2 separate regions of the Homo sapiens genome follow, and region 1 is linked to region 2. Evidence: fine-mapped expression QTL. Tissue or cell type: visceral fat. Region 2 holds a variant in brackets; the other region holds the start of a gene. All regions are shown on one strand. Distances are between the middles of the regions.

Region 1 (4,204 bases), 110 kb after region 2:
ATGTTTGCTGGGGAGCAGAAATCCTCTACAACCCCCAGAGTAAAGTTGGTGAACTCGAGGTTCAGAGAAGGTTCCAGACCTCCCTACCTGGCACGGCTGCAGGGTGGCTGGTCCGAGACCCACACCCAGCAAGTAGGGCGCTTTCTAGACTTGGTTTTGTGAGGCTGGTTTGGGGCCAGTCGGCCAGGGTCCTAGGAGAGCAGGGGTTGTGAGGGGAACTGGGACCTGCCTGGACTGGGGGTACTCACCTGTCTGAGGCAGGGCCGCACGCAGCAGCTCCCACCAGAATCCCAGCCAGGTAGATGGACTGGGCCATGGGCTTCAGAGCATGAGAGTCACACACGAGGTTCCACTGATGGGAGAGGAGGAGGCTGAGCTCAGGAGGTTGGGAGAGCCCCAGCAGAGAGGCAGAGGAACCGCATGGGAGGGCCCCCAGGGAGCTGGGTGCGGTGGGTGGTCTGGTGACCTCTAGGGTTTTAGAGCAAGACCCTGTGGAACAGTGAGGGCACCCACAGGCATAGTTTGGCCTTTTGAGGAGTATATCCTGCCACCCTCTGCCTGAACTCTTCCATGGCTCCCTATTGCCCAATGGGTCTCTAGCCACATCTGCCCCTCTCTCCTGTCTCTCCACTTGGAAGCAGCCACCCAAGCTGACACCCTCACCCCTCTCCCAGAGGTTGCTTCCCTCCTGTTCTTTATAAAGAGGTTCTTCCCACTTGTTGGGATGAGCTGCCCCTCTCTGCTTGCCTGGCTTTGCCTGGCGCCCCATCTGGGAGGCAGCCTGGGGTAATCCCTTACTCTGTGTGCTTTGGTCTCGGGGAATCCAGTGAATTGTCACTGAGTCCCCCTGCTGCTGAGTTGCCTGGAGTCACGGCTGACAGGTCAGCAGGGCCAGGACAGGGTGAGGCCGGTGAGTGTCCAGGTGCCAGCATTTAGAGGTGCCCGCCCAGGTGCCCCCCGCACCTCCAAGAGCCTGGGCTGGCCCCATTTGTAGACTGATCCCTGCCGCCCACTTCCCTGTGTGTGGCTGACGAGGGGCTGAGAGGCTCGAGAGTGAGTGGGGCCTGGGGAGGTGGGTCCCTCCCAGGACTGGACCTTTGAGTCTGACCCACCGTGATCCATGACTGACCTCCAAGGTGGTGGGACTCGAGTGGCTCTGGGGGAGGCCCTACCTTGGCCACGATTGTGGAGGTGAAGATGCTGCGGTCATAGACCCAGCCATCCACACACGGCTCCGTGTCGGCCTCGCTCCAGCTGGTGGCCGTGGCATTGGGGTCCAAGAGCTGCCACTGTGGCTGGCGGAAGCGGCGGCACTGGTGGGGCCTCTGGTTGGGGCCCGGCGGGATGGAAATAGCCAGGAGGGCCTCAGGACTCAAGCTCCCTAGGATGCTGGCCTGAGCCGTGCTGTTGTCCAGGAGGGGTGCCCAGCAGCGGTGGCTGGGCACGGCGGCCGAGAAGTTCTCCAGCATGCTCTGGGTACACAGCCACATGATGGAGACCATCAGAGCCATCGTCTGGAGAACCTGGAACCTGCCCAGGCCACCCACGAGGTCCAGGAGTTCAGAAAATGCCATGGAACCTACTCAAGGGGCCCAGAAGAGGGGCCCACTTCACAAAGGCTGGCCCAGGGCAAAGAGGCCAGGGCAACGGGCCTGTTTCCCCCACGGTGGTGCCCACAGTGGCTTCTCCAGCCCAGCGGCTAGGCTTCACAGACTCGGGGCCGGAGGCTCAGGCTCTCTGGTCATCTGCCTGCTGGTGTCACTTGGGGTGGCTCCAACTGGGCCCTGAGGCCGCGTGAGGTGATTCCGAGACCTCCAGCATCTCCCCAGAGAGGCAGCTGCTCCAGACCTCCCGGGAAAGCTGAATTTGGAAAGTAGGGAATGTGGAGACTGAAGACTTTAATTTTAGACTGGAATTAAAGTGTGACCGGTGACACTTATGGAATCGAGTTTAGCAATCATTTCCTTGGTCAAAGTTTAACCCGCGTTGAGGCAGGCACAGACGCGAGGGAGGTGCAGCCTCCTCTGCTTGGGGGCCAGGGCCGGCCTGCTCTGTGCCAGGTCTTGGGGAGGCCTAAGTTTTTCTCCTGGCGGCTGTGGGATGCCAGGGCTGCCTGCTCCCTTCGGTGCCCCTGTGTGCCCACCTCCCAGAGTGGCTGAGCCAAGAGAAGGTGGGCCAGGGGATCCCCCTAATTTGGGGCTGGGGCAGCTGTGCAAGTCTCTGTGTGGGCTTGGGTCACTGGCAGCTGCCCAGCCCCTGCGCCTCCCAGGCTGTGTGGCCTGGCCCCACCCGTGGCTCCTGCCTCCACTCACCTGCTGTGGTTGGCGTCCTGTGCCCGCTTTGCTGTTACCCTGTCCTGAGTCCTCGGTGGAGCTTCCCAGCATCAACAGACACCCCACAGACTCCCCAGGTTCGGTGTGCCCAATGCCACCCTGAGATCTCTGTCCCCTCCCCAAATCTATGCCTCCTGCAGAGCCCCACCTCAGCTATGGCCTCTCATGTCACAGTGTCTGGCCTGGAACCCAGCGTCTTGGTTCACGCCTCCTGCTCCCTGCCTCCCAAATCCACCAGGGGCCAAGCCTGGCTAGTTTTGCCTCCTAAGGATTTCTCTCTCCCACCTCCCCCACTCCACAGCTGTCCCTGCCCTTGTCTTTCTGCCTCAACTCCTGCCCCTGGACCCACCACGCACTGCGAGCCCTTGGGTCAAATCCTGCTTAAAAGCCAAGGGGCTCCCAGTCAACAACAGCTAGTGGTGACTTACTAGGGCAGGTGAGTGGACAGCAGTGTGTGCTGATGCAGGGTGTGGGGTTCAGGAAAGGCTGGACCGAGGCCAAGAGAACCCCCTTGGTCTCGATAGCTAATTCTGTAGGCGAAAGGGCCAGAGAACACAAAGCAGTTAAAAAGTGTGTGTGCATGGCCGGGCGTGGTGGCTCATGCCTGTAATCCCAGCACTTTGGGAGGCCGAGGTGGGGGGATCACTTGAGGTCAAGAGTTCAAGACCAGCTTGGCCAACATGGCAAAAACCCATCTCTACTAAAAATACAAAAGTTAGCTGAGCATGGTCGTGGTGCACAGCTGTAATTCCAGCTACTTGGGAGGCTGAGGCAGGAGAATCTCTTGAACCCAGGAGGCAGAGGTTGCAGCAAGCTGAGATTGCACCACTGCCCTCCAGCCTGGTTGACAGAGAAAGACTCTTATCTCAAAAAAAAAAAAAAAAAGAAAAGAAAAAAAAGAAGTGTATGTATATGTGGGTGTGTGCACATGTCTGTGTATGTGTGCACATGTGTTTGCACAAGTGCATGTGTGTACATGTGTGCATGCGTATATGTGCAGTGCAGCAGTGATGGCAACCCAGGTGTTTGCTCTTATGAGCTTTGGGCATAAAACTCTCCATTTGAGGCATAAATGCCCCTCCCATCTGCTTCTTTTTGCTTCACCGACTCTTCCCGCTGCCCCTCCACATGGCTTACCAAGCCAACTTCTTTGCCTCCCTGGGCTCTGCACCTTGAGTCATCCACTGCTTCCACCACATGCCCTGTACATGCTTTCTCAGTTCCCACCCTTGCTTATGTTGGACCTCCAGCCTGGAATGCTGTCTCCAGGCTCACCCTTAGGCCACATACTGTGTGGAATGGGCACAGTCCAAATACTCCTCCTCCAGCGGGCTCTCTTCACTTATTCCTGCCTACAACTAGGGCTCAGAGTTGTCAGTGGAATCTCATCTTTACACTGTCCTGCATTCTTCTCAAACTCCTGACCTCAGGTGATCTGCCTGCCTTGGCCTCCCAAAGTGGTGTGAGTTGCGGCACCCAGCCATGACCTGCATTCTTCTATTATGGTCCAGTTGGTCTTATTTCCAGTGAGCTCCTGGTAGTCTGGAACCCTTCTTTAGAGGCTCTTTGGAACTGATTTGGACAACAAATAAAGGTTCCATGGAGACTTGCTGAAGTGCATGGATGATTTTTTTAAAAATTTCATTTATTTTCTAATTATGAAATAATTTACACACTTCCTCAAAAATTCAGAACATATTGAAATGAAAATAAAGATCCCTCATATACTCATCAACCAGTGAGTTACACTACTGTTTACAGTTTGGTGTAAATATGTGCAGACTTTGTTTTAGTAACTGATATGTTTAGCTTCATCAGCTTGAGCTGCCAAATAAGCTTTACATTTCCTTTTGTAAAATCCAAAAGAAATA
Region 2 (4,204 bases):
GTACTATGGTTATTAGCTCTAGTGGTCAGGGAAGGCTTCAAGGAGGAGGTGGGACTTGGCCAGACCTTGAAGAAGGATGACTGAGTGTGAGTTATAGAGGTGGAAAGGAAAGGGCAGGGCTTTCCCACCAGGAGAGTAGCCTACATGAGGAATACAGGGGATGTGAATTGAGTGGGTCAGGACATGATGAAGAGACAAAGTTGGTTGTGTTTTATGGTAGATAAGATCAGAACCTTAGATTAGAATCAGTTTCTAGAAGTCTTGACTTCCAGGCTAAGCACGTAGCCCACTGGAAGTTTTCACCAGACAGATTTGGGTTCAAATTTTGACTGTCACTAACTAGCAGTGTGACCTTGGCCAAGTTACTCCTACTTTCTGAGTCTTGGTTTCTTCAGCTCTAAAAGGGAGTGATAGTAATATCCATTCACAATGTAGCAGTGGCGGGTAAAGGAACAATGGGCGTAAAGAGCCAGGCACACCCTAAGTGCTCAGTATATGCAAAGTGTTATTTTTATTATTCACTCAACAAACAGGAGAATGCCTTTTTTTCTGAGCCAGGAGCCATGTAAGCAGCTGGATATAGAGAGATGAATGAGGCATTGTCCTCACTTTTGGATATTTCACAGTCAAGTCAGGAAACAGACATGTTAACACAGATGCAATAGAGATTCAATAAGATAATTAATAATAGAATGTACATTTCTAGAGTTGGCACAAAAGAGGAAGGCTAGCTCTCCTTTGTTTAGAACAGAGACAAATGTGTATTGACCTGGATCTTTTTTTTTTAATTCTTTCTTTCTTTTTTTTTTTTTTTTTTTTTTTAGAGACCTGGGCTGAAGTGCAGTGGTGTGATCATAGCTCACTGTAACCTCAAACTCCTGGGCTCAAATGATCCTCTATTTCAACCTCCTGAGTAGCTGGGACTACAGGCGCACACCACCATGTCTGGCTAATTTATTTATTTTTCTTTTTTTTTTTTTCTAATTTTTTTTTTTTATTGATCATTCTTGGGTGTTTCTCGCAGAGGGGGATTTGGCAGGGTCACAGGACAATAGTGGAGGGAAGGTCAGCAGATAAACAAGTGAACAAAGGTCTCTGGTTTTCCTAGGCAGAGGACCCTGCGGCCTTCCGCAGTGTTTGTGTCCCTGGGTACTTGAGATTAGGGAGTGGTGATGACTCCCAAGGAGCATGCTGCCTTCAGGCATCTGTTTAACAAAGCACATCTTGCACCGCCCTTAATCCATTCAACCCTGAGTGGATACAGCACATGTTTCAGAGAGCACAGGGTTGGGGGTAAGGTCACCGATCAACAGGATCCCAAGGCAGAAGAATTTTTCTTAGTACAGAACAAAATGAAAAGTCTCCCATGTCTACCTCTTTCTACACAGACACGGCAACCATCCGATTTCTCAATCTTTTCCCCACCTTTCCCCCCTTTCTATTCTACAAAACCGCCATTGTCATCATGGCCCGTTCTCAATGAGCTGTTGGGTACACCTCCCAGACGGGTGGTGGCCGGGCAGAGGGGCTCCTCACTTCCCAGTAGGGGCGGCCGGGCAGAGGCGCCCCTCACCTCCCGGACGGGGCGGCTGGCCCGGCGGGGGGCTGACCCCTCCACCTCCCTCCCGGACGGGGCGGCTGGCCGGGTGGGGGGCTGACCCCCCCACCTACCTCCCGGACGGGCGGCTGGCCGGGCAGAGGGGCTCCTCACTTCCCAGTAGGGGCGGCAGGGCAGAGGCACCCCTCACCTCCCGGACGGGGCGGCTGGCCAGGCGGGGGGCTGACCCCCCCCACCTCCCTCCCGGACGGGGCAGCTGGCCGGGCGGGGGGCTGACCC[C/G]CCCACCTCCCTCCTGGACGGGGCGGCTGGCCGGGCGGGGGGCTGACCCCCCCCACCTCCCTCCCGGACAGAGCGGCTGGCCGGGCAGAGGGGCTCCTCACTTCCCAGTAGGGGCGGCCGGGCAGAGGCGCCCCTCACCTGCCGGACGGGGCGGCTGGCCGGACGGGGGGCTGATCCCCCCACTTCCCCCCCGGACGGGGCTTATTTATTTCTTTTTTTTAGGCAAAGTCTTCTCCGTCGTCCAGGCTGGAGTGCAGTGGTGTCATCATGGCTCACTGCAGCCTTGACCACCCAGGCTCAAGTGATTCTCCCACCTCAGTCTCCCAAGTAGCTGGGAGTACTGACACGAGCCATTACATCTGGCTAATTTTTGCGTTTGTTTGTAGAGACGGGTCTCCCTATGTTGCCCAGGCTGGTCTCAAACTCCTGGGCTCAAGTGATCCTCCCACCGTGGCTTCCCAAAGTGCTGGGATTATAGGCGCGAACCATTGTAGCTAGCCCTTGACTTGGGTCTTAAAGAAAGAGTAGATTTTCTTAGCCAGCTGTAGGTGAAGAGTATTTCAAGCACAAGAAATATTATGTGCAGAAACATAGCATATTATAGAAACAGGAAGAAGTTGGGGTGGCTGCAGCCTGGATTGTCGCAGGAAAAGAGGTTAGAGGAAGAAACAGTCAAATTTCGGATGGGATTTTCTGAGAAGATTCGACTTTAACCTACAGGCACTGAAAAGCTTTGAAGAGTTTTCAGCAGGGTCGTAACATGGTTGGAGTGGACCACTTTGTTGTGCTGCGGTGTATGAATTTCAGGGTGAAAAGAGTGGCGGTAGAGGGCATCATCTCCTAGGCTTATTAATGTTCCAAGGAGAGGGACTGATCAGGGCCTGGCCTCACCAGGGCCTGGCCTGGGCGGTGCCGGTGGAAATGGAGGGATGATAAGGATTTCTAGGAGTTTAGTTTTGTTTTTAGGGTTTTAGAAGGTGGAACCAGTAGGACCCGGTGATTGGCCTGACAAAAGGAGCAGGTGCTTTCTGGGTGCCTAACTTGATCAGGGAATTTGGTGGGGTGAGGAGAGGGTTATGAGGCCCACCCTAGACATATTGAATGTGAGAAGCCCATGAGACACTCAGAGACAGCGGCTCTAAAGACAGATGGGTACATAGGTCAAGAGCACAGGAGAGAGGTTTGTATCAGAAACACTGAAAGGTTCTCATCACAGCGGTATTTAGTAAGGCGTATCTGTTACCTCTGCCAAGAGGGTCAGGCTGGGGATGGGTAGGGAGACTGACCAAGAGGAAGCTATTGCAGGAAACCAGGCACAAGGAGTGAGGCCAGAGGCTACGATGACCTAGGATTGCAGTGGAGAAGGGCAAAAGTGATTCTGTGCTCCTGGGTGTGTTTTCTTCTCTGTACAGAGTCGATAGATAACACCGAGCTCTGTGTTGCAGTGAGGCTGATGTGTGATATTGCATGTGAGGGTCAGTACGGTGCCCAGCACATGGCTAACTAATGGAATCTCTGGAACCTATGAGGGCAGTGTGGGGCATGTAGTGGGAGCTCAGGCAGCACTGGTTGAAAGCAGGGGCTTTGCTAAGCACAGGGGAATAAGCACTTGGTTGTAGGAGTGGAGGTGTCGAGAATGGCTTCAGTGGTGGAGTTTAGATGTCAGAGAGTTGGACGAGCAATTGCACTGCTGGGTGGACACATGGTGATACAGGACTGGTACTCAGGGAGGAGGCCGGGACTACCCATGGTTTGGGAGTCTCTGAGCACGAAAATGAGCCATCACTGAGGAGAGCGAGGAGAAGTAAGAGGAATGTGGAGGGCAGGGGCCAACCCTGAAGGGGACTGAGGTGGCAGGTGAGGGGCATAGGTGAATCAGCAGAAAGCAAAGAGCAGCAGAGGAAGAGAGATATGTGAGTTTCTAGGTGCTGTCTCTCAAAAGCCAGAAACAAACCAAGCCTGGTTGTTTCACCTTCCTGAGCATAGCATGACGTACATTTCTGGCAGGTGGAAATACTTTTTGAAATACCTACCATGTTGGATTATCTAGAAATCACCATGCCTCCTTATTTGCACAGGTGCTGGTGAGACAATTGTGCTGACTGACCAGGGTCTTAGCATACTGGGACCAAAGAAATCCTGGCACAGCAGTCTTCACGAGAGCCAAAGGGTTTCCTGAGGGCCCCTTTATTAGCCAGCTCCCCCCATAAATGAAATGTGATTCAGTTTACTTAAGAAAACTATTGCTGGGCACTGTGGCTCATGCCTGTAATCCCAGCACTTTGGGAGGCCGAGGCGGGCAGATCACCTGAGGTTGGGAGTTCGAGACTAGCCTGACTAACATGGAGAAACCCCATCTCTACTGAA

Which allele goes with the higher level. Alleles are on the strand shown, and positions count from the first base shown. SD is a standard deviation of normalised expression in the study named.
For the expression in visceral fat of the gene that starts at base 1,911 in region 1, G is the high allele of the variant in region 2 and C is the other (moderate effect, 0.69 SD a copy in GTEx).

What was found. PIP is the estimated chance that this variant, and not a neighbour inherited with it, causes the effect.
Region 1: it holds the start of SLC22A12, and the variant in region 2 is the best candidate, but not a certain one, in a credible set for the expression of SLC22A12 in visceral fat (GTEx, PIP 0.79).

Annotation. Positions count from the first base shown.
Region 1 is chr11:64,588,927-64,593,130 of GRCh38, reverse strand. SLC22A12 (solute carrier family 22 member 12) reads right to left here and starts at 1,911. Exons shown (of 10, transcript NM_144585.4): 1 at 1,173-1,911; 2 at 249-352. The coding sequence starts at 1,574.
Region 2 is chr11:64,699,590-64,703,793 of GRCh38, reverse strand. All of the region lies in intron 2 of NRXN2 (neurexin 2), which reads left to right. Among named protein-coding and RNA genes, the nearest start is that of NRXN2, 22 kb to the left of the region's middle. The variant C/G (reference allele first, on the strand shown) is at 1,838.